Linked DNA regions of Homo sapiens: regions 2, 3, 4 and 5 are each linked to region 1. Evidence: fine-mapped expression QTL. A gene starts in region 1. Each other region holds a variant in brackets. All regions are shown on one strand. Distances are from middle to middle.

Region 1 (5,906 bases):
TCCAAGCCATGTGATCAGAAGTATCTCCAGCTATGAATAAGAAAAGTCTATTTCACTTAGATTGCTGTGTTTTGAATTCAAGAAAGAGATCTGCTCATAGATGAGAAGATCCTCATTCCACGTTGCAGAAGCATTGGTCATTTTTACTCATTTAATATATAGTTATCCATTTTTTAATAACAACTATGGTATGATGCATTAGGTTCCAAAGTACTCACCGACTGGGTAAATAGCAAATGCCAAAGTTAATAAAACTAAAACTTTAGTCCAAGACCTCCCACATACACCTAAAGGTAAAAATTATGAATTAAAATATTTACATAAATTAACTTAGGTGTCATATACCTCTTAATGGTCAAATGGTCAAGGTAACACTACCAAGAAAATTAAGATGATCGAGGTGACAAACATCGAAGTACTTTTTATAATCTGGCAAAGCAATGTGAATTCAGAACTACCACTCTAGACCCAAGTCACTTCTGACCTTATGAGAATTTCTTCCGGACAGAGACCACATCTTAGCCATCTTTATATCCCAGCATCTAACCTAGCACCTAGCAAATCAGTCACTCAGTAGTAGAGTGGATAACTTTTCTGATTGTACTTGGAGGAGAGAAAATATTAAAGGCCTGGTTCTCATCTGTATTCACTTCCAGAAATTCACAAGCTGAAAATATTGACCATTTGTTTCAGGTAAGGAGCTTCTATAAATTAAGGTAGGCACCCCTGAAAGAAATGTTTCAGTACTTAGGAGCAATGGCTACAGATACCTATTCCCCAAAGTCCAAGTGAAAAGCATGACTTGTCTGGCAGCTTGGCCCTTTTCCCACATCCAAAATAATCAGTTGTACAAAGTAGGCTTAGTCCCAAAACTGCTCAGACTTTGTTCCTTCAGTAACATCTGGGTTCAGCATGATTCCTGACCTCTATCTCAAACTGGAGATTTCAAACACTAAAAACTTCACTCTCCAAGAAAGTAATGTCATAAAGTCAAGGCCAGGGGAAACAAAGAAGCCAGGATTAGCAGAAACACTTCGGAGAAAGGATTCTGACATACATATAAATGTTTCTAAACGTCTAAAATATTGAAATGACTTTTCAAGAAGGAAATTTTAAGTGCACCTCCTCAGATGAAAAATATTCATACTACTGAGGAGAAAGACGTTTTTCAGGAAGTTAAATGGTCATACCAGGTAGATAAAATAAGCTTTTTCTTTCCAGAGAGAGCATACTCTTCTCTCTGCTGTAGAGTTTGGCTCCAAAAACCTGGTTCATAATCTGAGACCCAAAAACTGATTATTTTAAAAAGACATGTCTTAAGCTGACCTAGTTTGGAAGCCTGAATGCCTTTAAATTGCCAATGAACTGAAACCATTCATGAGAATGGGCCTTTTGAATGCTGAGAATGTTCTTTGGGACTCAGCACAAAGATATTTGGCATAGATGACTGTAAATATTTGTAAAACTCTGGGTAAATGGGCAGGATTTGACCACACTCAAGCCCGACTTCCAGCACAGTAGTGTAGGAGAAAGTTATCTAGGGTGATTGTTTGGGGTTTTGGGGGGTTTTTTTGGTTGAGTTTTGTTTGTTTTAAATAAAAAGCCAAGCAACCCAATTCTACTACTCAACATCTTTTTCACGTTCACTATATATGTTTACCTTTTTTTAATCAAGATAATTAATTAGTCAGAGACTACTTTTGAAACTGAGGTTTTTCCCTTTCCCACTTTTCTAAGTTTATGCCCACGACAAAAATAAAAAAAAAAATGCCAGTCAAAGGTGTGCAAGGGCAGAGCAGGAGTTGTGTGAAACCATGACCTTGGATTTCATAATACAATTATCTACAAGTGGCTTTGTGGATCTGCTATAGGTTTTTCTCCCCCTCAGGATAGTTTTAGAAGTATTTAAGGCACTGCTGTCCATGAAAAGGACCCAGGTTGTGAAGGAAAGATAAACTAAGGAGAAGGAGGGACTCACAGAGGGATTTGATGTGAAAGGGACCAAGAGGCTCATTTCAGTGAAAGCTGCGGCAGACAGATACTCTAATTAGCCAGCAACTCAGTTAGGACTGGCTAGGTTCCTTTTGCCTCTTACCCACACCCTAAAAACTGAGTCATCCCAAAGTTCATTTATTTTGCTTCTGGGCACAGACACCCCCTAATCTGCTTCCTCAGAAATGTTAGATACATTGCCATTTAATTTATACCTCTCAATGTTCAAATAAACGTCCAGAAATGCCAAATCGGAAGAGCAGAGATAGTCCTGTTAAGAACCTCAGAGCTAATGTTTTGATAAGATACATGTGGCAGAAAGCAATATGAAACTGACAGTCTGTTATGAGAACATGAAAAAAGAACATTTCCCAGAGAAGGGAATTAATTTCTGGGAAATCTTTATGTGAATAGTGTATATGCATGAGGAGTAGACTTACAGCAGGATCCTTGAAACTCATGAGAAAAACAAAAGGTGTTTTAGAAAGAATAAGCAAAAGATACCTACCTTTTCCCTGCACAAACGACAATCAGTTCGATTTTAACTTAAATTTGAGAATGGCTCTCGTAGTATCAGAGTTTCACTGTTTCATTAGCAATTACCTGATAAAATAAGCACTATAATGCATAATCCGAGATTATGCCAACTTTTGGTCTCCCCTTAAGACCTAGGGAGAGGTCTGGTCTAATCTCGGATTCTACAATACATTCTATTATAGAAACTGTTTTATTAGAAATGAAACTACTTTCCTTTAACAAAGGCATTTTTCTTCTAAGTTAACAGGTGTTTAAGGCATTCAGAATGAATTCAGTTCTGTATGGTTTGAGCACTAGAGACAGAAAATCGAAAAATTGTGGTGTCACAGTGAGTTTCCTGTCCTTTTTCCTTAGTCCAGCAACACCATTCCGGTCTTGCAACGCCTGTAGCCTTTAAAAAGCTCGCTAAACCTACCTGGCAGCAGACCTGCGTTCCTCCGTCGCCGGGCTTCTCAGTAGCCTCCCTCGCGCTCACCGCCAGTCCGGGCTGCTGGCACACCGGACAGGAGCTCTTCCATTCTCTCCGTCTTTCCTCCGTGCTCTGCGGCTGACAGCTTTACACTTTGCAAGACTGCAACAGGACTTGCGCTCCCAGACCTACGGGTCGGGAGGAGGCGGAGTCCCCGACCGCCTCCTAGCCTTGACTGGCAGCTGCGATGCCCGGGACTGTTGCAGCGGGAGCGTGGGGCACAGCTCGCCAGCAGCGGTAGCAGCGCGTTTATTTATACAGGAAGCTCAGGCGCCGCACTTCCTACTTCCCATGTGGGTCGTACTTCAGCTGCAGGTGTTGGCCTTAACCCTATCCGAACCCGGGCGCGCTGCACCGACTCTACTGCTTGTCAGGACCTGTCTCTTGTTCTCCTGGGACCGCTGTTGCAGGAATTCAGAGCAGGGGGTGCAGGCAGCTGCCCCTAGCGCACTTCTTCTGCCCAGACAGGGACAGCTCACCTCTTGGCCTTAAGCGCCTGCTACCTCTCTGTCTGTACATATCCTCACAGGCCACCTTTCTTTATTTTCTCCCTCCTTCCCAGCTCTTTAAATCTCTTTCTTCTACTTCTAACAGCCCAGACCTGCCTTCCCACGTGGCAGACAACTGTTTTATAGAAACACTTCCCATGCACATCTCATCAAAAAACAGCTTGTACCTCACTTGTCCTTTTGCATCTAATGATGAAATTAGAATACCTGTGAATCAAATCGGGAATAATCTTAGTTTACCTCATAAAATACAGACACTTCTTGATGAAACAATGATTTCACTTGAAGTGCTTTGTAACTTAACTGGTTGTACCCTCAATTAAACAAAAATGTAACAAAATAATCCAGAAGCTGTGAGGTATTATGAAGTGCTTCCTTGCTCCAAACCCTTGGACACTTCATTTGTGTGACATTCATAATGAATCGCATACCTACTCATTCCCCATATCCCCCATAGATCACAATCACCTAAGTCTGCTGAACATTGCCATTTAGGAATGTCGCTCTGACACAAGAATCTGTGTTCACTCTGCAATCCCTCTCTACTTTTGCAACCACTGTCAGGAATGTGCTTCCTAAAAGGAAGGGACTCACAGGCCCTTTGTGGAAAGGATCTGTGCACGCCAACAGGCACCATTCCAAACGACACAAGCAAACATTGCTTCTCAGCCCTCCAAGTTGAAGAAAACCTCTAGGTCAAAGCAAAGTGCTGAATAACACAGTGTATCTACATGTGCCATGCTAGGGCAGGTAGGAGGACCAGCTCACCAGTCAGGGAGGAAGAGAAAAAGGACAGGGGCAATAAGATGATAAAAGAACCCACGGTAGGATATTTGAGCTTGAAAAGTCTTCCTAGCTATTTTAGCAAATAACCTGATTTTAAAAATAAGGAAACTGGGCTGGGTGCGGTGGCTCACATCTGTAATCCCAACACTTTGAGAGGCCAAGGCGGGCAGATCATCTGGGGTCAGGAGTTCAAGACCAGCCTGGCCAACATGGTGAAACCCCGTCTCTACTAAAAATACAAAAAATTAGCTGGGCGTGGTGGTGGGTGCCTATAATCTCAGCTACTCGAGAGGCTGAGGCAGGTGAATCGCTTGAACCTGGGAGGCAGAGGCTGCAGTGAGCCGAGATTGCGCCATTGCACTCCAGCCTGGGTAACAAGAGCGAAACTCTGTCTCAAAAAAAAAAAAAAAATAAGGAAACTGATGTCCAGGAAGATTTAAGAGATTGGCCCAAACCAGACACAGGCCAAGCTAGAATGAGACCTAAATCTGAGTTACATGAGGAAGGTGAATGTAAATGAAAACCATCCCAAAGGAAGTCCAACCTTCAGATTTAGCAATGGCTTAGGTTCTGAGATAATCTATTTCAAGGAATTTTCTTGGTATAGTGACCATTTTGGTGGACAGGAACTAGGAAAGATAAAAAGCAACCTCTAAGAGGTTAGTTTATTCATTGGTGTTGATGCAAATCTCCTGAGCCTTAAACCAAAGTTCAACACAGAGTCCACTTTTCAAATTACCATTCATAAATTATAATCTCTTGTTAACAGGATAAGGGAAGAAGCTGCTGCCAATATGAATGAGAACATAAGCACGAATAGTGCTGCCTATTATCCCAAATATTTTGCACAACTGAGTAACATCACCACTGATTATTTTCAACCATGCAACTATGCAAATTTTTTTTAAATTGCAGTCAAAATTTAATAAGACTAAATAAACACGTTGAATGCTATAATATTATGTGAACAAACTCTCTCAGATCTTCCTAAGGAGTCTACAGTGTGAATGGATATTCATTCTCTGGAGCATTTATTGATTTCCTCCCAGACAATCTGCTAGGTTGTATTAAGATAATGATATTAGACATGGTCTCCCTGTCCTCAAAGACCTCTCAATCCAGGGAAGGAGTAAGACAAGCAAATCAATTATCAGGGTACTGATAGTTGTACCCAATGTGTGAGTGATACATAATGTGTGATATGATAGACTTAAGCATGATGTGCTATTGGGAGCACAGAGAAGAAGAATTTAAAGGAAAGGAGTTGATGAAAAGAATCAAGTCTTCTCTGAGAAGGTGATTATATTAATCTGTTCTCACATTGCTATAAAGAAATAACTGAAACTGGGTAATTTATAAAGAAAAGAAGTTCAATTGGCTCATGGTTCTGCAGCTGCACAGGAAGCATGGCTGGGGAGCCCTCAGGGAGGTTACAATCATGGTAGAAGGTGAAGGGGAAGCAGGCACGCATGTCTTACGTGACTGGAACAGAAGCAAGGCGGGGTGGGGCAGGGAAATGCCACACATGTTTAAACAACTAGGTCTCTCAAGAACTTATTGTCACAAAAAACAGCACCAGGAGATAGTGCTAAACCATTTATGAGAACTCTGTC
Region 2 (5,906 bases), 24 kb before region 1:
AGATACCAAGGGATAACTCTACAGGTATTTGTTGTAAAAATCTTTATCTTGTTTCATAACAAACTGTTGTACAATTTTTTCCATCTTTTTAAAAGTTTTTGTTCTTTTTCACCTTCAAGAATAGAAACAGGATGTTGTACAATATTTTAAAACTAAAAGCAAAAGATAAAATTTATACCATTCATCAAATCTCAGATTTTAATACTGCTTAAAAGCAGAAATCCTATATTTTAAATAAAATCTGTCTCAGTATTTAAACCAGTTTGAATAAATTATAATGAAATAATATCTTAATTAAAACTAATCATATATATACCTACTACGTATCTATACAAATTAAAACATTTTTAAATAAAACTAGTGGTAGCAATATTAATAACTATCTGAATTTTTGAAATTTTAAAAGAATATTAACACTGTATAAGTGACAGAATAAAGCTAACTCATCACCAACATTTTTTCCTACAGGATATAACCTACAAAGCCAGCATGCAAAATAGCTCATATTAATGACCCAAAAGTTGGGAAAGAGTGACGCTTAACAGTTTCCTCAAGAAGATATTATTTCTATACATGGAATGATAGGAACAAGGGACATCAGTTAAGAATAGACCTAACCCTTAAACTTCCTCTTGAGCTACATTACAAAAGAGAATCTCTTAGATTTAAGAGAACTGAACTCTGAAAAAGTAGAAAAGGTTGGACAATGACTAGGTTGGTTATTAGAAATCTCATTTTATTCAAAATTATTTTGAAATAATGATATTCAATGACTCCACAGCAAAATCAGCATCTTTCTAATTATAAGTTACATTGCATCAAGACCACGACTATTCCTCACCTCACAATATTCCCCCGAGGATTTATCCTGCAAAACCTGGAATTTTTTTTAACATTTTCTAAAAAGCAAGTTTTTAGAAGTCAAGGGGCTTCATATTGAGTGGGCTTTTTTCATATTAATTGACATAATTTGAACCAGTCTTCCTTTTCTGAAGGTTATCAATACCATAAACCGTAAGATAAAGTTTTTCAAAGGCTAGACATCATTCCATATTAAAACAATCTTTAATTAACACATTACCTAGGGAAAGCAGATGTTAAGCTATAATATTTTTTTCCATTTGCAGAAAAGGTCTCTGTGCTCTGCAGTAACCCATGCATTAAACACCCTCAACACAGAAGAATCACTTGGAAACAACCGTCAGACTGAGGTCCTCTTAAGAACACCAGTAACTTCCACAGACACAATGCGCCTGGAGGGTGGGAGAACATCAGTCATTGAGGCAGAATGCCTGGCCTTGAACCTTGACTTCAGTTTCAACATCTGAAAATATGCTAAATGCACTGGGAACTTCCAGTTGTGTAAATCAGACCTCTGAATGTCTCGGCCTTGGTTTCCTCAAATAACTTACCCGAAATCACACAGTGGAAAGTTCACAGAACACTCATGTTCATGCTCAATCTCTAATATGAGGCCATGGCCACCACTATATTCTGATTACATACTTTCTGTTCTCTGAAAAACTCCTTGGATTTTTTAAACCAGTAGTTCTTTACATTTGTTTTGTACTGACTAAACTTTTACGTATATAAAATCAGTAGCCAGTTGTCAATTTTGCATTTTATAGGCTATTGTCAAGCTTTAGACATTTCAGGTTAAGATCACAAAAGCCAAATATGGGCCTTCATCCATTTTCATGCTAACAAAAAAAATTTAGGAACCACATACTATGTGCTAGGCCATACATTATATATTTTCACAGAGCTTGTTTTTATTTCTTCCAAACGACACTATGATGTAGGGATTAACATTACAGATCCTGGGCAAGTTATTTAACTCTGAATTGGTTTATCTGTAAACTGGAAGAGTAAATGGGGGAAAAAATAGTACCCTTGCATATTACATATTATATGAAAGGTACTCAAATGCCCTTGCTTTTCCTTCCGTAATTTTTTTAAACAGATGAATAAAATGAGGTTTAAGCAGATTGAAAAAATACCCTACATTCATGTAGTAAATACCTCACACATATTTTCCAGAAGAGTCAAACCAAAAAGACCTCCTTACTGTGGGTGGGAAATGATTCAAAACCATGGAGGCTTTCAGTTAACACAGAGCCATGTATTTCCATGGAAATGAGGCACTGTGTCTCACCTGATTCCAAGGGGTACACTGCATATCTGGAATCCACATAGATAAGCCTTATATAACCAATCTTTAATGAACTGAAATATACAGAAAATGGGATTTTAAAAAACTGAATTTTCTAGTTAACTCACCACCCTTTTTCAACTTGCCTAAATTTTTTAAACCTCCTTTACCTACTTAGTAACATTTTGTCACTGGACATGAATTTTTTTGTGTGATAAGGCATCTCCCTCAGTCTGAACACCACCATTTTTTCATTCATTCATGTCTTCTATGTGTAATATACTTTTCTAGATATGGCCCATTTTTTTCTAACTTGATTACTATTAATACCAAGGTATAAAATCAGTTGAAACTATACTGGCACTGAGCATACTGTATGTTTTTTAAAGATAGATTCATGAGATGAGCTTCTCTTACAACAA[T/C]TTGCTTCCTCCTAAAAAGAGGAAGTATGGATTAAACCATGAGATATGTTCTTTTCACATACCAGATTACAGAAGGTGAAAAGTTGGAAAATACCCGGAGTGTCAAAAGAGAGGCCTCTGTTCCTACTCTGTTGGTGGAGTTGCCAAGCTGGTGCAACAGTTTGGAACAGTAATTTGGTAACACATACTGATTTAAAATGTACATCTATTTTGGTTAGGCAATTCTATTTCTAAAAAGTTATCCTAAGGACAGGTATTTTCACATTTATATAAGTAAAAAAAATGTATTCATAATAGCAAAAACTAGAAACAACCTTAAAATCCATTATTTAGGAGGGGCCCAGTTAAATAAATTTTCATACAACCATATCATAGAACACTATACAATACTTAAAAAGGAAGGTTGGTCTGTATATTTTTGCACAGAAACTTGTCCACAATGTACTATGTTTGTAAAACTCAAGTTAAAAGTATCTGTAGTTAAAGATCCCATTTCTCTATTAAGTGATGTGCGTAAGTACACAGGGAAAGAGTCTAGAAGAAAGTACAGGTGGGCTGGGCGTGGTGGCTCACGCCTGTAATCCCAGCACTTTGGGAGGCTGAGGTGGACAGATCACCTGAGGTCAGGAGCTCGAGACCAGCCTGGCCAACCCCCTCTGTACTAAAAATACAAAAATTAGTTGGGTGCGGTGGCGCATGTTTGTAATCCCAGCTACTTGGGAGGCTGAGGCAGAAGAATCACTTGAACCCAGGAGGCAGAGATTGCAATGAGCCGAGATCACACCACTGTACTCCACCCTGAGCGACAGGGCACAACTCCGTCTCAAAAAAAAAAAAAAAAAAAAAAAATATATATATATATATATATATATATATATATATATGAATCATGCACATGCTTTTTGAGGTTTTTTGGTTTATTTTTAAATTAGCATGTGTTACATTTATAATTAAAAATTATCTTCAATGTAATAAACCAAGAGAGCCCTGAAACATGATTATTTTGTACTTTAGGGTCCTATTTCTTCTATGAGTACTAGCCATGATTTTTAAAAATGTACTTTCACTGGGCACGGTGGCTTATTCCTGTAATCCCAGCACTTTGGGAGGCCGAGGCAGGCAGATCATAAGATCAGGAGATCGAGACCATCCTGGCTAACATGGTGAAATCCCGTCTCTACTAAAAATACAAAAATTCCCTGGGAGTGGTGGCACGTGCCTGTAGTCCCAGCTACTCAGGAGGCTGAGGTAGGAGAACTGCTTGAACCCGGGAGGCGGAGGTTGCAGTGAGCAGAGATCACGCCACTGCACTCCAGCCTGGCAACAGAATGAGACTCCGTCTCAAAAAAAAAGAAAAGAAAAGAAGAAAAAAAAAGAAAAGAAAGCTGACAGTATCCCAAATGGATAGGAAAAAAGAGAAATTGGGGCACAAAAATAATTTAAATACTCCAGGCATCAAAACTGCAGTCTGCCATACACATGTATCCTAAGTTGATAAGGACATTGTTCTCCGAGCTCTGCTTCAGCCTGCCATGGTTCCCTCCTCCTGCTCCAGCCTTGCCCACTTTCAGTCCATTCTCTATCCTGTACCGACGCCATCCTCCCTATCTCATTCCCAAACAAAGCCTTCCAGTGGCTCCATAATGTTTTTTTAACACAGCATACCAGGCCCTCCATCTAGTCTCTGCTTGCCTCTCTGGCCTCCTGCCTGAGCACACCCACACTTCCAACAATGTGTCCCAGGAACATCTTCCGGTTTGGTTCCTCAGCAGGTCACTCTTCCCTGATTCTGTGTTCTCACATGTGGCTGGCCTCTTTTCCCTGGAGCACTGTTCTCACCCACAGCCCCATCAACAATGCCATCAAGCAATCCCTATTATCTTTCAGTCTCAGCCCTTAGGAAACCTCCTACCTCCCTGAGTCTATTTTAGGTGGGTTTCTGTATGCTTTATAACATATTGTACTTCCTTTATCAGAGGGTCTACTGCCCACATAACAGCAGGGCTGGTTGTGTCTGATGACTGCCACTTGCTCCACAATTAACACCATGCCTGGCACACACTAGTACCAAATGGATCAGTAGAGTCTGGACAAAGGTGGGAATAGACTTAGAGAATATTGGAATAAGGGTGCAACTTCAAAAGAAGAAATACATAAACTTTGGTGACTTAGTGGCAACAATGGAAAAGTTCTCTCATCAGAAACCAACTTTTGCCTGCTCTCTGGTCATGATTTGCATGTTTGGCCAGCCTATTACATTCTGATATGTGGTTTGAAGAATTAAACTTTGGCAAAGGCATGCTTAAGGGGGGAAAAGTCTACACAACATACAAGCACAGATCACCAAACTATCTTTTCACAACTTCCTTTGTAAAAAGAAATAAAATTCTGTTCCACATTATAACATCACCCCTTACCCGAATACCAAGCCTAAAGTACTTGTTACGCCTATGATCGAAGTAAAAAATGTTATGTAGGCCGGGGCGCAGTGGCTCACGCCTGTAATCCTAACAGTTTGGGAAGACAAGGCGGGCAGGTCACTTGAGGTCAGGACATCGAGACCAGCTTGGCCAACAAGGTGAAATCCCATCTCTACTAAAAATACAAAAATTAGCCAGCATGATGGCACCTGCCTGTAATCCCAGCTACTCAGGAGGCTGAGGCAGGAGAACTGCGTGAACCCAGGAGGCGGAGGTTGCAATGAGTCAAGATCGTGCCATTGCACTCCAGCCTGGGGGACAAGAGCAAAACTCCATCTCAAAAAGTAAAAAAAAAAAAAAAAAAAGGTTATGCAAGTGAAGTTTGTCCCAAAAGAATTCTGTCAACCCAAGAGGGTGGGGGAGGGCATAAGTTACTATTTCTTAATATACCTATGGCAAGAAGGTAAGATATGTTAAAGTATGTTCAAAGAGATCTACCCAGAAAAAGAAGAGTTTTCCAGGGTTTTTTTTTTTTTTTTTTTTTTTTTTTTGAGACAGTCTCACTCAGGTGCCCGGGCTGGAGTGCAGTGGCAAGATCTCAGCTCACTGCAACCTCCACTTCCCGGGTTCAAGCAGTTCTCATGCCTCAGCCTCCCAAATAGCTGGGATTACAGGTGTGCGCCACTGTGCCTGGCAAATTTTTGTATTTTCAGTAAAGACAGGGTCTCACCATGGTGGCTAGGCTGGTCTCAAATTCCTGGCCCCAAGTGATCCACCCGCCTCGGCCTCCCAAAGTGCATGAGACACCACACCTAGCCAAATTTTCCAGTTTCTATAGAATTGTGTAAATATACTAATAAAGCAGGAATATAACACACTTAAGGAATATATCACACTTTATTAGTTAACTTA
Region 3 (5,906 bases), 45 kb after region 1:
CAGGAAGACCACTTGGGCCCAAGGGTTCAATACCAGCCTGTGCAACATAGTGAGACCCCGTCTCCACACAAAAACAAAAACCAAAATTAGCCAGGCATGGTGATGTACTCCTGTAGTCCTAGCTACTTGGGAGGCTAGCAGGGGAAGGATCACTTGAGCCCAGAAGTTTGAGGCTGCATCCCAGCCTCAGTGACAAAGCAAGACCCTGTCTCAAAAAAAAAAAAAAAAAAAAACAAACATAACTAATGATTGCCCTTTCTTGTTAATGTTTTGCAAAAATGTGTATCTATCCGAGACTCCTTTGAGGAGTGTTATGGACCTGATGGTGTTCCCCCAAAATTCACATGTTAAAGTCCTAACCCCTAGCACCTCAAAATGTGACTGTATTTGAAGATATTGTCTTTAAAGAGGTAGTCGGTACCCCTGATATGATGTGAGGAGAAAGACACTCTGCTGCAGTATTCCTTCTAAAATCCTAGCACCCCAATCTAATCATGAGAAAAACATCCAACAAATTCCAAATCCCAATGGAAGGGCAGTCTAAAAATACTCTGAAAGTACTCCCCAAAATTAAAACGTCATCAAAGACAAGAAAAGTCTGAAAAACTTAGCCAAGATCAGCCTAAGGAAGGATGATGACTAAATAGAGTATGGTATCCTGGATGGGATCCTAGAACAGAAAAATGATATCAGGTAAAAACTAATGCCAAATCCCCCTCTCCGAGAAACACCCAAGAATGATCAATAAATACTAAAAAAATTTAAAAAAAAAAGAAAATAAATGCAATAAATGTTCTTAATCTTAAAAAAAACTAACGAAGTGTGAATAAATCATGTACTTCAATTAAAAACTATTAAGCATACCAGAGGTAGTGGGTAATACTGAGAACAGGGGAGGCCATGAATGTGTGGGGACAGGGAGTATATGGAATATCCCATATGCTTTCCTCTCAATTTTGCTGTGAACCTAAAACTGCTCTGAATAAGTAGTCTTTAAAATGAAAAAAAAAAAAAATCCTTGTTGTTTTTGTTTGTTTGTTTGTTTTTAGCTCTGTCACCCAGGCTGGAGTGCGGTGGTGCAGTCAAAGTTCACTGCAGCCTCGACCTCCTGGGCTCAAGTGATCCTCCTGCCTCAGCCTCCCAAGTAACTGGGACCACAGCTGTGCACCGCCATGCCTGGCTTTTTTTATTTTTTTATTTTTTTTTAGAGATGGGGTTTTGCATGTTGCTCAGGCCAGTCTCAAACTTCTGGACTGAAGCAATCCTCCACCTTCAGCCTCCCATAGTACTGGGATTATGGTTGTGAGCCACGGTACCCAGCCTGAAAAAAAGTTATAATAATTCATAGACAGATGTACCGAATAGGATTTCAACAAGACTCTTTCTTCACCATTTGCAAAGACTCTCACAAACTGCTGAAGTCCAGGCTGGCTGAAAAGCAGCTTGAGGAAGCATGTTCATGCATCTGGGAACAAGGGGAGTTCACTGGAGTGCACATGCCAGAATGGAAATGAGCCCCCTGCTGTTATCTGAGGCAATTTGTAGTGGGTCTCAATGCTAAAATTAAAGTACACCCCACAAGAAGGGAGGTCACCTGAAGGCAGCCAATGGGCCACCCCTTTAGGGATATTCTCTTGATAAATTCACCTCTGCCCAGGGTCGGCTCTCAGCCTCACAAGCTCAGCAATGACTTCATCAGTGTCTTGACGTTAATCAAACTCATGGATGCTGACTCACACTAATAGAAATGAGTATGATATAGAAAAACAGGATGCCACATCATCAGGCAAACCCAACATGCTAGGCTTGCTGGAGTGGGGTCTGAGAGTCTCCATTTCTAACAAGTTCCCAGGTGATGCCAGTGCTCCTGGCCCATGGACCCCACTTTAAACAGCAAGGGTCTAGACAAGCTATATGGGAAGTCCAAGTATCAGAGTTTATTGGTGAGTGGAATATGAATTAGATCTCAAGAGAGGTTGACTATGTAACTATTTCATGCCATCGGGTTTTGGCTGCTTTACATATCCATTTCCATAATAGATATCAACCCACTACTAACACTTAGTGGTGTCAGACCCTTGCTTTAACAGCCTTGAGAATACAGCTACTCTGTGCCGAACTACACAACCTGTTCAGCCAGTCGTGTTCTGTGGTATGTTGATCAGGTTTCATCATCTGAACTGATACCTTCACATGGCCAGGAATGTAAATAAAAAACTCCCATATATTTCTGCCAGGGTAAATCAGAATATATTAAAAATGAAGCAACTACTAGAAACTCTATACCAATCAAAAGAGAGCAAGTAATGAAGGTAATGAATTTCCCTACAGTACATGAATACTTTTTTTTTGAAACAAGAGTCTTGCTCTGTTGCCCAGGCTGGAGTGCAGTGGCTGATCTCAGCTCGCTGCAACCTCCACTTCCCGGTTTCAAGTGATTCTCCTGCCACAGTCTCCTGAGTAGCTGAGATTACAGGCACCTGCCACCACGCCTGACTACTTTTAGTATTTTTAGTAGAGACAGGGTTTCATCATGTTGGCCAGGCTGGTCTCAAATTCCTGACCTCAAGTGATCTGCCTGCCTCGGCCTCTGAAAGTGCTGGGATTACAGGCGTGAGCCACTGCACCTGACTTGAATAAAGAAATTTCTAACAGATTGGTTGAGAAGAAAAGGAAATACTGCAATGATTAGGTGTCATTCATTCAGCTATTTTCACACATGCCTACTAAGGGAAACCACTATTCAGCAGGTAGCTCTCAAAGTCCTGCATGCAGAAAAATCATATGGAAAGTGTTTTGAATGCAAATTCCAGGGCCTCACTCCCTCTATTCCCACCCTCATTCTACCCCAACTACCAGGAGTCCAATTCAGCAGGCTGGGGCTTATAAATCTACATTTTTAACACGCACCCCCAACAGATTCTGAAAAATACTGACTTATATAGGATTTTAGTGGTTTTCAACCCTGGCTTACATTAGATACAGTGGAGAAGCTCAAAAAAAAAAAAAAAAAAAAAAAAAGGTCCCATGCCTGTATGCCAAAACCCCAAAACAATCAAATCAGAACATCCAGCGCATGAGACCCAGGCAACAGGCATTTTCTTAAGCTTCCCAGGCGACTTAGTGTTTCCAGGTGGTACTATTTGTGTGGGTTGTTAGACATCAGATTCCAAGGCCCCTCCCTGAAGTCTCTGATTCAGTAGGTCTGGGGCAAGGCCCTAGTCGGTGTGTCTGATAAGTGCCCCAGGTGATTCTTATGATGGGGTTTGAGAAATGTGTCTGTCTTACTCAACTGAGTCAGAAATACTGATCCCAGCAAAGCTGCTTCAAGGGATTTTTTTTTTTTTT[TG/G]AGACAACTCAAGGGATTTTTGACTCCAGTTTTGAAGCCCCTATTCCATGAATTTAGCTCCAATATGACCTGGGTCTTCCCAAAGAGACGGAACTCACCTCCCTTAATGCTGCATAGGAATGAAAGCCCACTGCTTTATACAACATGGCCTCTGTGGTCCCACTTTTATTACTAATACAACAGGACATTTCTCCCAGATTTAACACTTAGTGCTACATACCAGGCACATGGTATTACAAGCACTTCATCTATTAACTAATTTAATGTTCATAACAGTGCTATGACTAGGAACTATTCTTAGTGCTAACTCTACAGACTTTTTAAAAACGGAGGCATAGAGGCTAAGTAAATTGACTAAGTTTGCTTAGTCAAAGCCAAAGTTACCTAGAGAATGAATCTGAACCCAAACAGTAGAGGACCAAGGTCTGCTCTCTTAATCATAACACTATCATGCTGCTCACCAAGCAAAAGTTGAAGAGCCTGTCCACACATCACTTGCTGCCAGAAACACACACACACACACACACACACACACACACACACACACACAGAGAGACAGAGAGAGAAAGAATCAAGCAAGTTAGTGTTTATTACATCCCTACCATGTATACCAAGTGCTGGGCTTGGGGCTTTACGTATATTATTTCACTTAATCTGCAAGTCAGATATAATCCTATTGTCATGAACACACTATACTGCCTCACTCAGTGATGGAGAGAACCAAACTGTTTTGCATGGTGCAGAGCACCATGCAAAAAAGAAAAACAAATAAAGCAGCCGAAGAAACCTTCCAAGTTGATTTGGAGACTGAAGAAACAGCCAGTTGTGGGGGTGCGTGCTGGGGCGAGAGGAGGCCGGGCAGAGGGTGACTGCGGCTGGCTGTAAAAGGATTCTTGGAGGTGGTGGAGCTGTGGAGATCTTTGGCTCGGAGAAAAGGCAGGGCTTCCTGAGGTCTCAGTAGAGGACAGGAGTTTCATTCAGACATACTGCTTCTCAGTGCAAATCTCAACAAGTCAGGACAAGTGGCTGAGGTCCACCCACTTTAAGGAATGACAAGACATGATGCTGCCTTTAAAAAGAATCTGATGTCTCTAACTCATGCAGGGAAACACAACACAATTTCCTTGTCCTGCCTTAGGTTTCTTCCTGAGTAGTGGCACAGGGGGAGAAAGGAGCTGCAAACCCAATGCCTTACTCCAAGGAGTTTTAAGCATTTGGCCAGTGGCCTGAAAATACTGTCTTTAGGGAAAACAATGGTAAATGGCTGTTAAACATCAGCTTTTTCCTATCTACCTGCTTAGGGACATCACGTGATGCCAATCCCAAACAACCCATCTAAGAAGAGTCACACTATAGTTCAGCCTCAAGGAAATTTGCCTGAGCTCCAGGGTTCTGGAGGTCCAATGCTATTTGCCAGGCCCTGGGGCAAACACTGAGGCCTTAGCAATACTGGACTCTGTGCCCAATAGCTAAACAGAAAGAGTCTAAAAAAAAAAAACCAGGACTAGATGCACAAAAACAAATCCCAGAGAAGTGGAGAAGTAGAGAGTCTTAGTCCATTCAGGCTGCTATTACAGAATACCATAGACCGGGTAGCTTATAAACAACAAGTTTATTTCTCACAGTTCTGGAGGCTGGGAAGTCCAAGATCAAGGCAGACTCAGTGTCTGGTGAGGGCCCAATTTCTGGCTCATAGGTACTGACTTCTTATTGTGTTTGCACAAGGCAGAAGACAGAAGCAGCAAGTTTTCTGGTATCTCTTTTATAGGAATATGAATCCCATTCATGAGGACTCTGCTCCCATACTCTAATCAATTCCCAAAGGTCCCACCCTCAAATACCATCACCTTAGGGGTTAGGGTTTCAATAATAAGATTTTGAGTGTTTTGTTGTTGTTTTTTTTTTTTTTTTAGACAGCCTGTCACCCAGGCTGCAGTGCAGTGACATGATCTTGGCTCACTGCAACCTCCGCCTCCCAGGTTCAAGCGATTCTCATGCCTCAGCCTCCTGAGTAACTGGGATTACAGGCATGCACCATCATGCCTGGCTAATTTTTGTATTTTTAGTAGATATGGGGTTTTGCCATGTTGGCCTGGTTGGTCTCCAACTCCTGGCATCAAGTGATCCACCAGCCTTGGCCTCTCAAAATGCTGGGATTACAGGCATGAGCCACTGCACCTGGCTAACAATAAGATTTCTGGAAGAACATAAAAGTTCAGACGGTAGCAGGGACGTCTAGATGGGCTGGCAAAGAACCTGCAGCATCATGAGCCTTCTGGATTTTATAGCTCTGATCCTAGAACATAAGCCACTGGGTGGTGTTGTGTGGGTTATGGACAGCTTTGGGCCCAACAGCATAAAGTAGTACTGGAAGGTATACAATTCTGGAGATGAATTCCACCCTTAACCAAAGCTGAGATAGAGATGCTACGATTTCTACCAGACATGCATTCCCTTATAAGGCCAAGAGCAAGTAGGTTGGGTCAAGTGTGAGTGACAGCATCACAGTTGTGAGGAGAGCAGATAAGGAGGTGATATGCAGTCATGCCTAAAAGAG
Region 4 (5,906 bases), 83 kb before region 1:
TCCCTCCAGTCTTTCATTTCTAGTCAAAAGCATGGCTATGCTAGTTTAAAACATCTACAGCATCTGGCCGGGTCTGTATTGCTGCACTGGGGGTGGGAGAGGGGAAGAGGCAATGACCTTGACTTTTGTTGCACGTCCCTCAACAACAGGCAGTGACTGGTTAACTCAGATCCATCTGCTTTACTGGTCTGACTTGAATGGAAACACCATCCTGTACTTTAAGCCAGCTCTTAAAAGAGTTGTCCTTCCTGAATCCAAAACAAGATTCAATCCAATCCTGAATCTTCTGAAGGTTTGTTTAGAAAGCTCAGATCAGGTTTTCTTCTGAGTCCATTTAAGAAAATCTGTCCCACATATAGACCAAATGGACCTCCCAAGGACACTAGCCAGAAGCAGAATTGCTGATCTCCTTGGCTATACTAGACCCAATTCCAACGGTAAGTCAACAGTTCCCAGGTAGAAGTTAGATTTTGCTAACTCTTCCCCAAGTTTGTGATGTCTTCAAGCAGATTCTATTACCTGTGAAAACTCTTTGCCTTCATGGGGCTGGGAAACAGAACAGATTTTAAAAAGCTAAATTTCCTTTTGAAAATGACAAATATACATACTCTCGTAGCCATTAAAATGTAAAATGGAAGCCAGAGATGTGTCAGAAGAGGAAGCCAAAGAGGTCTGAAGTATGAGAAAGACTCAATGAGCTGTTGCAAGCTTGAAGATGGAGGGGGCCACGTGGAAGGTGTGAGAAGGAACTGAATTCTGACAACACCCAGAGAGCCTGGAATAGGACTCTGAGCCTCCCTCCAGAGGAGAACACAGCCCCATCCAACACTTTGATTTTTTTTTTTTTTTTTTGAGACAGAGTCTCACTTTGTGGCCAGGCTGGAGTGCAGTGGCACAATCTCAGCTCACTGCAACCTCCACCTCCTGGGTTCAAGCGATTCTCCTGCCTCAGCCTCTTGAGTAGTTGGACTGCAGGTGCCCACCACCACGCCCGGCTAATTTTTGTATTTTTAGTAGAGACAGGGTTTCACCATGTTGGCCAGTATGGTCTCAATCTCTTGACCTCGTGATCCGCTAACCTCGGCCTCCCAAAGTGCTGGGATTACAGGCATGAGCCCCCACACCTGGCCAACACCTTGATTTTTAGCCCAGTGAAACTTCGAGCAGAGAACCCAGCAACATCACGTCAGACCTCTGATCTACAGAAACTGAAGTAATAAATGTGTTGTTTTTAGATGCTTTTAAAAATTAAAATAATGCAAACAGGTCCCGAGTTAGTTCATGCAAGATGTGGGTTCAAGTTCTAGCTTTGCCACTCACCTGCTGTACGACCTGCACCATGTCTTCTAACCCCTGAGTCTCATCTCCCATCTGTACATTGGGGGTGGGGGGGTGTGAAGAGTAATATCTACTTTCTAGAGTAGTATGAAGAGCAAAAGGAAACTGCATACTATAAGGCATTATTTAAACACTAAGTTCTTACCATAAACCTTCCCCCCAAAATCAATGTGTTGATATAAATTCTGCATTTCTTTCCACATATTCCCCTCATTTTAATGAAGCATATACTTAGATTTAACTATTTTGTGAAATATTTGTTAAACAATGACATAGGATTTTTTTTTTAAACCTAAAAAGAAAATACATTTACGGAGGGGGTCATACTTCTCTCAACACAGACAAGCTTGAAATGTATTTCAGGACTACCCTCCTCCTGCCCCAAGTTTGCCCCCTCTTCTCCTCTCAGAACAATGCCTGGCTAAAAACTGATTGACTCGGCCAGGCGCAGTGGCTCATGCCTGTAATATTTCAGCATTTTGGGAGGCCGAGGCAGATGAATCACTTGGGGCCAGCAGTTCAAGACCAGCCTGGCCAACATGGTGAAACTCTGTCTCTACTAAAAATACAAAAATTAGCTGGGCGTGGTGGCACACGCCTGTAGTCCCAGCTACTCAGGATGACGATGCAGGAGAATTGCTTGAACCCAGGAGGCGGAGTTTGCAGTGAGCAGAGATAGCACCACTGCACTCCCGCCTGGGCAACAGAGCGAGACTGTCTCAAAACAAACAAACAAAAAACTGATCAACTACACTTAACAGCTGCAAGCACACCTAACTCAGTGGCTCGCTCTCCTCACACCTCCCTAACAACCAACACTTAGAAGCACTTTGACATTCGGGATTTTACTCGATCCACCTAAGCCTGACCTGAGAT[A/C]GGGATGAAATGACGCTATACAATAAAGGGCTGGCCCCAGACCATACCACCAGTCAAGAGCACAGCCAGGCCTAGAACTGAAGCCATCTTATTGCCAGCTGGGCGTCTGCCTCCAACCCCACACCACCTGGATTGGCAGAGGGCCGGGAGGACAGAGGACGCTGCACACTTGTTCTGTGGCCAGGGTGGCACCACGTTTGCCAGCCCTCTCCCAGCACCCTGTTCACATGCCCTTGTGGTGCCAAAGTCCCAGGGCCAGGCTGGAATTCAGGACACACCACACAGGGTGGTATGTGGATTTCTGAACTTGTTTTAAAATGAATTGGCTTGTCTTCAAAACATAAGTCGAGGCTGATCAATAATCAGAAGTCCCATAACTTACCTCAAAAATACCTTCATGTTCATTTTATCTGAATGTGTTCAGTACTATTGATGTTAACCACCCCTCCACTCCCCACAAAAGGAAATATATCTTCTTGAATCATGTCAGGTCCTTAAGGAACTACAAGATAAAACGACCAACACTCAACTTAATTTCCTTCTCATCGAAAGCCCGAATTCCTGATTTAACAGCTAAAAAAAAGCAAAACTGAGGGCAAATATAGCACTGATAAAAATCGAAAATCATAAAGGCAGAAAATGGAATTGAAAGGACTTCTTTATGTATGAGAAATTAAGTTCATTACTTGGAGTCCCCTTTCTAGCTTTGGAAACTGCCAATTGATTTAATGGTAGGCTACAAATACACATTTGAGTACAAGTTGGCAGTGTTAATAAGAAAGGAGTTAGATCTGAGTCAACAGTCCCTTTGAATCTTGATTGTAAATATCAAAAGGAACTTGTGAGAATGTACTTTGTAGGGGAGAGGCAAGCACTTGGGCATTTGGGGTAAGTATATAGATTCAGCTATAATTCTGCTTCCAATACTAGCAAGTCAGATGCAGACCGCCTTGTTATTTTTCTAGTTACCTTCCATCAACTGTCCTTCTCTAGCCAAACTTCAAGGAGTGAGGTGAGGGGATCTCAGGGGTACCCACCAAAACACAGCCTCTAAGTGATGATTTGAAATATGTTCTTACATACATCTCCACTGATGCAGATAAATGAGAGGGTACTATGTTCTCTTAGGACTCACAGATTTGGGAGTGAAAGACTCGAAATTACTAATGAAAGAGCATTATAGAACTTTCAAGTCGTAGTGCATTCTTTTCCTGGCTGTCACTCATCAGTATGAACCTAAGCAAGACATGAATACAAAACATTGCTTTCTTCATAAAATGGATCTAATCTGCTCCATTTATCTCAAAGGATTGTTCTCAAAAGTTCTTTAGTTTACGTAAAAATATACAAATAAAACATTATAATTGCTATTAACGCATTTAAGCAGATTCGTTTCCTTTTTCTCATAGTGTTGGGCATTATCTTTAGGGTCTAAAGAAAACTAGATTTATTATCTAACAAATGAAAATAATTGAATTACAGAAAAACCTAATTATTATTCTCCTCCAAATCATCAGATTCATAACTTAAATTGCAATGAGTTTGCTGGTTAGGGCACTGATTAAAATCACTGCTATATAAAATGGTTCATTCAATATTTCTTTGGGAATGCAAATTCAAGGTTAGCAAACAATAAGCACACTTTCAAAATGAAATAATGTTGACATTCTAGGAGATGATTAAGAAAATTAAGAAACCATAACCCAAAAGTATTTTTAAATGATCTTATTGATTTCCTCAAAACTGAATGATTAGAAAATGAAATTTGAATTGTACATCAGTTGTAAACCTTTGTATGCAGGTACCATTTTAGAAGCATCCAGCCTTCAATAAAAAGGTTTCAACACCAGTACAGGAGAGTGAGCTTTCGGTTTTATGGAAACACAAGCTCTAGTTGTTAAGTAATCTTTGGCACCCAACTTAAGACCTGCCTCGAATACTAATTCAAATGGAAATGACCTTAACACTCTTAAATCCTTTCTTAAAAAATCATAACAAGGAAACACATGCCTCTAGCAGACTTTTGGAAGGTTAGAACTGACCTTAGCGTTTAGTCCAACCTTTATTGTACAGAACAAATGGCTTTGACACTTGGCAGCATTTTTTATTAGAATGATCAAAGATCTGTATTATTGGTTATTGCTCTGGATAATGATGAGTTCCTATGCACTGGCAGTGTGGACTATCACACCTACAAAGAAGAAAGTGTGTAACAAAGGCATTACACTTGCCACCCCCCCACCCCCTTTTTTTTTTTTTTGAGACCGAGTTTCGCTCTTGCTGCCCAGGCTGGAGTGCAATGGCACAATCTTGGCTCACCGCAACCTCCACCTCCAGGTTCAAGCAATTCTCCTGCCTCAGCGTCCCAAGTAGCTGGGACTACAGGCATGTGCCATCATGTCCAGCTAATTTTTTTTTTTTGTATTTTTAGTAGAGACAGGGTTCTAATTTTTTGTGTTTTTAGTAGAGACGGGGTTTCACCATGTTGGCCAGGCTGGTCTCGAACTCCCGACTTCAGGTGATCCGCCCACCTTGGCCTCCCAAAGTGCTGGGATTATAGGCGTGAGCTACCACACCTGACCCCCTGACCCTATTTCTTTTAAGAAGTAAAGTAGCCAAGAGTTATTTCCATAGATGGTATTGCAAATTCTGGTACATTTTGTAAATTCAGAACCTAGGATTTAACAGTAACTTGGTTGGTTCTCAAAGGATAAAACTGAACATGCCTAGAATTGTGCAGCGCAACAAAGGTTAACACACTTGATTTCCTGCTTACATTTATTGTGGCTAGAGAGCCTAAACAGCTATTTTCTTCTCCAAAAATTGGAAAAATATAACACGATAGCAATTTTTTAAATACATAAAACTTCCTGGATCATGAATCAACATGAGACATAATAGCCTGTAGATATCAATTGTGATCGCTTTATAAAATGTCATTCATCTAATGCATTTCTGAAATTGCCCTTAAAGCTACACATACACACATGACTCTATATCACATAAAGGCATCCATTCATGAACAGAAAGAAAAGTCTTTTATTAGTACTGTGTAGGGAAGGCTAAAGAAATATACATTTAATTCAGAATAATTTTTAAGAAAAAACGTGGGGTTCCAAGAAATGGTGATTTACATTCAAATGAACATGTACATTTGCAAACCTGGATAAGTAGATATTTTCATGAAGCACGCTACAAGAAAATTCACACAGAATTATTTGTTTTTCAAAGGCCTCTTTCAAAGTACAGACTCCAAGTCCAAAGCAAATACCCATGGCATGAACAAATAGGATGCCTAAGATTCTAACATTTGCTTCGGCATGGCTTTCCTCCTCACTTCCCTACCTCACAACAAGAAAAAATTTCCTAGATGGGACAATGGCAAGATATTGTGCTAATACGTTTCATAGGATTTCTAGATGCTGGGCTATAACATCCAGGTTACAATTTGGTGACGGATTTTTTTATTTCTATTGCAAATGGACTACACTCCAAACACAAAAAGATTCTTGCCATAGCATCCAAACATCCCTATGTAGACCCACACTTCCTCTCAATACAGAAAGAGAATCACTCAGAAAGGACAAAGCTGGCAGACCAAGAAAGGAGGCAAGGGTAAACTCTGTCACTGGCCAATTATCTAAAACAAAAATAGCAGCCTCTGTTATCAAAGTTGTCAGTTAAAACTGTCA
Region 5 (5,906 bases), 38 kb before region 1:
GTGCAAAGCAGGTGTTCTGTGTTTGCTAAATGAACAACTGATTTCATCTGTTTCTTGGGATGTCGTTCAGAGGCTTACAAACACCCTAAGAATAAACAAGAGTTCATTATATTCTAATTTAAAGTGAGCAGAGTCTGAAGATTTAAAGGCAAACCAATAACCGGTGATTGAACAAACGAGGGGATATGAAAAAAAAAGAAAAAGATTTCAGATGCCTGCTACAGATCAATTGAAAGGTCTCTACTCTTTGGAAATGGTTCAACTCAGGCTATCATTGTGGAATCACAATAGTTTATATTTTCCATAACTGCAGCTAATCCATGGTCTATTTATCTTTAGGGTATTACAATTTACAAGACCATTCACTATTCAGCCTCTGTATGTGTCCATTCTCACACTGCTATGAAGAAATACCCAAGACTGGGTATTTAATTGACTCACAGGTCTGCAGACCTGGGAAGGTCTCAGAAAACTTACAATCATGGTAGAAGAGAAAGCAAACACATCTTTCTTCACATGGCCGCAGCAAGGAGTAGTGCTGAGCAAAGGGCAGGGAAGCCCCTTATAAAACCATCAGTTCTCAGGAGAACGCACTATCACGAGAACAGCATGGGGGAACCGCCCCCATGATTCAATTATCTCCACCTGGTCCCACCCTTGACACGTGGGGATTATTACAATTCAAGGTGAGATTTGGGTGGGGACACAGAGCCAAATCATATCAGCCTCCTAACTTCACATTTGGTAAATTTGATTTCTGGTACTTTGCCTATTCTATAGCTTCTTCAACACTCAAGATGGTATATGTAAATAGAACTGAGATAAATGACAGCTTTAACAGTTTGTATAAAAAGTCCAAAGGTAAGCTGCAATAAAGTGCTCCTTTAAAAAGTTAACCTCTGTATTTTCTTGCTAGACTCCCTGGTAGGGAAATACATAAAGACTCAAGATCCTAATAAATAACATAAATAGGAAAGAGGGGAAGATGATGGTAGTCATTCATACCTCAGCTTCCTGCAGGGTCCCGTGGTTTAGGCACACCATGTCAGGGCAAGTGATGGGAGACCCACATCCTTCTCGGATTGCCAGCTGCATGTACTGTTTCAGGCACTGGAAGTTAAGAAAAAAAAGACAATTGCCCATTCCATTACAGTAGCAGAAAGGTTACATAACAGAACCACCACTGTGTCTTCTTCCTTAATTGGCTGTCCTGAGGCTCTTGTACTCAAGAAACATAAGTTATCACAAGTGTGAATACTAAGAGCCATCACTTTGGAAAGAATGCAGAGACAGGCAATTAATTATGTATGACTTCATCTTAAGAGTTTATTCAAGTCAGATTTCCCTATGCTCACACATTTCAGCCACCATAGATCAGGAAAAGAAAAAACACTATTTTCTAACCCTAAAGGCCCCCTCCTTTAAAAAAAAAAATATGAGTTCCTAATTCCATTTTTACCTAGTGGTCCTCTCCATCAAAGTTTACCCAAAACTAGAACAGAACGCTGTGACCCTTGCACTGAGCTAGCCACACAATCAAAGTAAGCTTAAGGCAGTGACATTTCTAGGACCACGCTTAAAAGCAAACATACCTGGAAAAGATAATGTCAAATTTGGGAAAGTCAGGTGACTTCCTGCTGACTGGGGACAGCAAAGATAACTTGCTTCCCAAAGACAAGAGACACATTGTCCCAAAGACATTATCCCAAAGACAATGAGACCTCAAAAATATGGGCCTTGGTGGATGCCATGTTAAGGAGGTTGGAGTAGGAAAAAAGGCACTGGTCCCCTGGGGAAAGAAGAAATTAAATAGAAAAAAATAAACCCAGAGAAGAAATTGAATAGAAAAAAGAAACCCAGAGAAGAAATTGAATAGAAAAAATGAAACCCAGAGAAGACATTGAATAGAAAAAATGAAACCCAGAGAAGACATTGAATAGAAAAAAGAAACTCAGAGAAGAAATTGAATAGAAAAAGAAACCCACAGAAGAAACTGAATAGAAAAAAGAAAACCAGAGAAGAAACTGAATAGAAAAAAAGAAGCCCAGAGAAGAAACTGAAAAGAAAAAAGAAACCCAGAGAGAAGAGGGAGAACACCAGGAACAAAGTTGGTCTGCTCACTGCCTGTTGTGTCTGGATGTTGGACAGTGGGTGAAGATGTGAGTCTGACTGAAAAGTTAAGAGAGGGACTGATAGCTTTATGGAAACCTGTAATGCCTCACCCTATTCCTCTCTATGCAACTGCACAAGAAATTGAAGGCAGTAGTTCCAGGAAATAAACCTCTAAGTAATTGGTTCTTCAACTTCTACTAA[T/C]TTGCTCATAATCGGTAAACCTTTTCTACATGCATGACCAAAAAAAAGTCAAGTTCAAATGTTGAGGAGTACATTCCACCAAAAATACTTAAGCCAGCCACTGAAGCAACGACTCTTACAAAGTGGTGATTATTTACAACTGGGTTTAGATTTTTCAGATTTATACATTTATGTATCAACTTACTGCATTAAAAATATTGCTGTTGCACCAACTTTTTATAAAAGCATGAGCCAAAAGTAAAATTCTAGGGTCAGAATATTGATGATGTAATTGTGAAATCTATCCCTGTTATTGACCATCTTTACTCATTTTTTCCACCTGAAAATAAAACTAGTATCACTATTATATTACTTCAGAAAACTAATCATGTATTTATCTGGTTATAAATAACTTACAATGTACTGATGAATCAATGACTAGGGCAAACCATTTAAACCAGACTTGTATCTCTTCAAATAGTTAACAGTTTTTTTCTCCAAGGAGTTAATTTTTTCTATAATATTCATCACAGCAAAAACTAGAAAATAACCTAAATACCCAAAATAGAACACTGAAATAAATGTTGCTAAATTTATGCGATAGAATGTGCAGAATCATGAAAAGAGTCTTCAAATGATATTTAAAAGACATGCACAAATGCTCATGATTTAGTATAAATTCAGGAATAAAAGGTATCTGGGAACAGGGATCCTCTGCAGTCACTCCTCTCTTGCACTTGACCGCCATATAATTACTGTGTTTTAACCCTGACTTCCTTGTTCAACAGAAGGGTGAAAAATCACTTGCTCTAGGATTTACTGTGCCAAACATGGTATCCAGCAGCAGCAGCAGTGGGACATAGAAGAGAGCAGCAGCAAGGAAATATGGGGAAGAATGTCAATGGGCAGGCGAACACCCAGGGGAACAGTCAAGGCGGCTCACCAAAAGGAGTGTTTTGCCAGGGGACAAATGAATAAACAGTGTGAAAGCCTGTCCATCCTGTTCTGCTGCTGAGGACATCTCAGCCTTCCATCAGCCACACCTGTTCCATTGTTACTGCCTTGATCTTCCCACTGACCCCCAGCAGCCACTTAAAGAAATTTAAGTAAAAAGACTGAAAGATATAGTCTCCAGGCTCAAGGGGAAGGTGTTTGAGGAAAACAAAGTGAACAATGCAAAGAACTTCAGATCCTAACACCTGGGTGGAGGGTCCACTTTACTAGGTGACAATGGGAAAATGACTTAGCCTATGACCTAGACTTGCTTTCCTTAATTTAAAAAGTAGGGACAATAATACCTGTTATAGTTACCTCACAGGTTTTAACACACACACACACACACCCACACATACACACATACACGTGAAATTTATATATGGAAGCCCTTCATGAATTTGCAAATTACAGAATAATAGGTCATGTTATTACTCCTCTTCTCCTGGTCTTAGACTTTCCATCAAAGACTTTGTGGGAAAATGTTAATCCTTTGACCTTCTGAGATATCCTTTCTCCACTCCCTGCAAAGCACCAGTTAAACCACTTAAGGTGGAGAAGCTGTGTAGACAGAACAGATATTTGTAACAGAATATCCCAGGTGCCTCTATGCAAGGCTCTTAGAAATATTTGGGTCTACAGAATAAGTTTAGCATTAAATAGGAACTAAAGATACTAAGTGAGTCCTTATAGGCAAACACATTCATTTCAAATATAACTGCAAATGTGTTAAGTTGAAATATACACCTTCCCAAGAGCTTATAATGGATGTGCCTCTTACTAATAATGTAATGTTCCTAGGTACACTACAAACCACAATATATCAACTAAATGAATTTTGAAACTTCCTATAAGCACTCTCCTGGCCACAATATTATATGACCCACGATTTTGGGTGAGAAGTTAGACCTCTGTACACTGACTCCAGGGTTTAAGTACACATACCCTTTGTTTTTAATGCTAAGAAACACTGGTTCAAGATAGAGATTTGTAAGGGCAGGTTGCTAAGTAGTCCTACAGCACAGGCACTTGACATTCCATCAGTGTGGGCATGCATTTCTATTCAAAGGCAAAGAGGGAAAACAACCAGCCCTAGTTATTGCTTTTTACTGAATTTTCAAGTACCCCAGGCTTGTTATATGCTGCCCATTAACTTTCACTAAAACATTTAATCTCGAGTGTCCCTCTCTTCTTCTGTATCTCTGGCTAAAAAGTGCAAAATAAGTGAAAACGTTCACATGAATCCCATGTGCATGTCATACAAAACACAGGTAAATGGTTAACAATTCTAGGGGGGAAAACTGGCATCTAGCTTATAAAGAGAGAAACAAAGAAAATGAAAACAAATTATAGCAATGCAACAATGGCAAAATAAAATAATCACTATTAACAAAGAAAACTACCACCATTTAGTCACATTTTGAAAGTTACATTTATTAAGTAGCATTCAACAGATATTTAAATAAGCAATTTTCTTAACAGGTAACAAATTGTAAGGAAAATGTTTCAAATAGAACATCTCAAAACCCAAATGACCCAAGGGAAAAAAACCTTTTTCTTTTGTATAGTCAACATTTTACTTAGTTTGGTAAAACACAGAATTATTTTTAGGCCATGAAGGGTCATGCAAAATAATAAGGATTGTTCGTCAAACTCACTCCACAACCTTTAAGGATTCATATGGGATCTAACCAAAAATGTAACCAAACACCTGGTGAACCAGACGACTCATATTGTCTCTTCCAACTCTGAGAGTCTATGAATTGTATGCAATGGAATCTACTCAGAAACAGGTGTCTCCTAGACCCCTTTCAAGGGTATCAGATTCCGATGTACCAAAGTCACAGGCATTCTTCATATAAGGTGTTCTCACCTATTATGATGGACATGGCAAAAAGGGTCACAGTGTTAAGACAAAGCTACTATGTACCTACCCAAGAACAAATCACAGGAGTGGGCAGGGAATATATGTATATTTTTAAAAACGTACTATATAGTTCCTCATTCTCTATCACTAAATTATGCCCTACCTAAAGTTTTTTTTTCTAAGAAAAAATAAAGCATTATAATCTATAGCCAATGAAACTGGATTCCAGCCATGTAGGTTGAAGCACAAGCTCTAAAGTCTCCTCTACATCTTGAGCCAGTCATTAACCTCTCTAGCTACAGTGCTCTCATTTATAAAATGGGACAATATCACCTGTCTAAGCTGCTCTCAGGGAAAATGGAGAGTCCCCCATTCACTTTGAAAAGTGAAAAGAGGTATGCAAACGTAAAGTATAATTGGAGAATGGAATAGATGTTTCTGAATAGGCAGGCATGCAGAAATGAAAGTCCACAGACAAATAGGAACCTTAGAAAAGCTTCATGAGGGTGAGGTGAATAGGTAAGAGAATAGGTACTGTTGAGAGGAAGGAGGTAATGAGTGCCATTAGTTGATTTTTTTTTTTTTTTGAGACTGGGTCTTGCTCTGTTGCCCAGGGTGCAGTGGCACAATTATGGCTCATTGCAAACCTCAAACTCCTGGGTTCAGTGATCCTCCCACCTCAGCTCCTCAGTAGCTGAGGCTACAGATGCCTGCCACTACACTCGACTATTGATTGATTGATTGAAATTGGGTC

Which allele goes with the higher level. Alleles are on the strand shown, and positions count from the first base shown. SD is a standard deviation of normalised expression in the study named. Not every link is listed here.
For the expression in skin of the gene that starts at base 3,225 in region 1, allele G in region 3 goes with a lower level than allele TG (moderate effect, 0.54 SD a copy in TwinsUK).

The links. PIP is the estimated chance that this variant, and not a neighbour inherited with it, causes the effect.
Region 2: its variant is fine-mapped to the expression of RNF144B in whole blood (TOPMed, PIP above 0.99).
Region 3: its variant is fine-mapped to the expression of RNF144B in skin (TwinsUK, PIP 0.95).
Region 4: its variant is fine-mapped to the expression of RNF144B in whole blood (TOPMed, PIP above 0.99). The same link has a PIP of 0.9 or more in esophagus mucosa, lung and sun-exposed skin.
Region 5: its variant is fine-mapped to the expression of RNF144B in whole blood (TOPMed, PIP above 0.99).

Annotation. Positions count from the first base shown.
Region 1 is chr6:18,384,669-18,390,574 of GRCh38, reverse strand. It overlaps RNF144B (ring finger protein 144B), which reads right to left and starts at 3,225. Exons shown (of 8, transcript NM_182757.4): 1 at 2,945-3,225.
Region 2 is chr6:18,409,015-18,414,920 of GRCh38, reverse strand. All of the region lies in intron 2 of RNF144B (ring finger protein 144B), which reads right to left. Among named protein-coding and RNA genes, the nearest start is that of RNF144B, 25 kb to the right of the region's middle. RefSeq lists an enhancer at 1-289. The variant T/C (reference allele first, on the strand shown) is at 2,575.
Region 3 is chr6:18,339,732-18,345,637 of GRCh38, reverse strand. No RefSeq gene overlaps it. Among named protein-coding and RNA genes, the nearest start is that of RNF144B, 45 kb to the left of the region's middle. The variant TG/G (reference allele first, on the strand shown) is at 3,349.
Region 4 is chr6:18,467,943-18,473,848 of GRCh38, reverse strand. RNF144B (ring finger protein 144B) reads right to left here. Exons shown (of 8, transcript NM_182757.4): 8 at 4,979-5,906. Among named protein-coding and RNA genes, the nearest start is that of MIR548A1HG, 52 kb to the left of the region's middle. The variant A/C (reference allele first, on the strand shown) is at 2,215.
Region 5 is chr6:18,422,785-18,428,690 of GRCh38, reverse strand. RNF144B (ring finger protein 144B) reads right to left here. Exons shown (of 8, transcript NM_182757.4): 3 at 1,006-1,110. LOC124901271 (a long non-coding RNA gene) reads right to left here. Exons shown (of 2, transcript XR_007059487.1): 2 at 4,699-5,158. Among named protein-coding and RNA genes, the nearest start is that of RNF144B, 38 kb to the right of the region's middle. The variant T/C (reference allele first, on the strand shown) is at 2,314.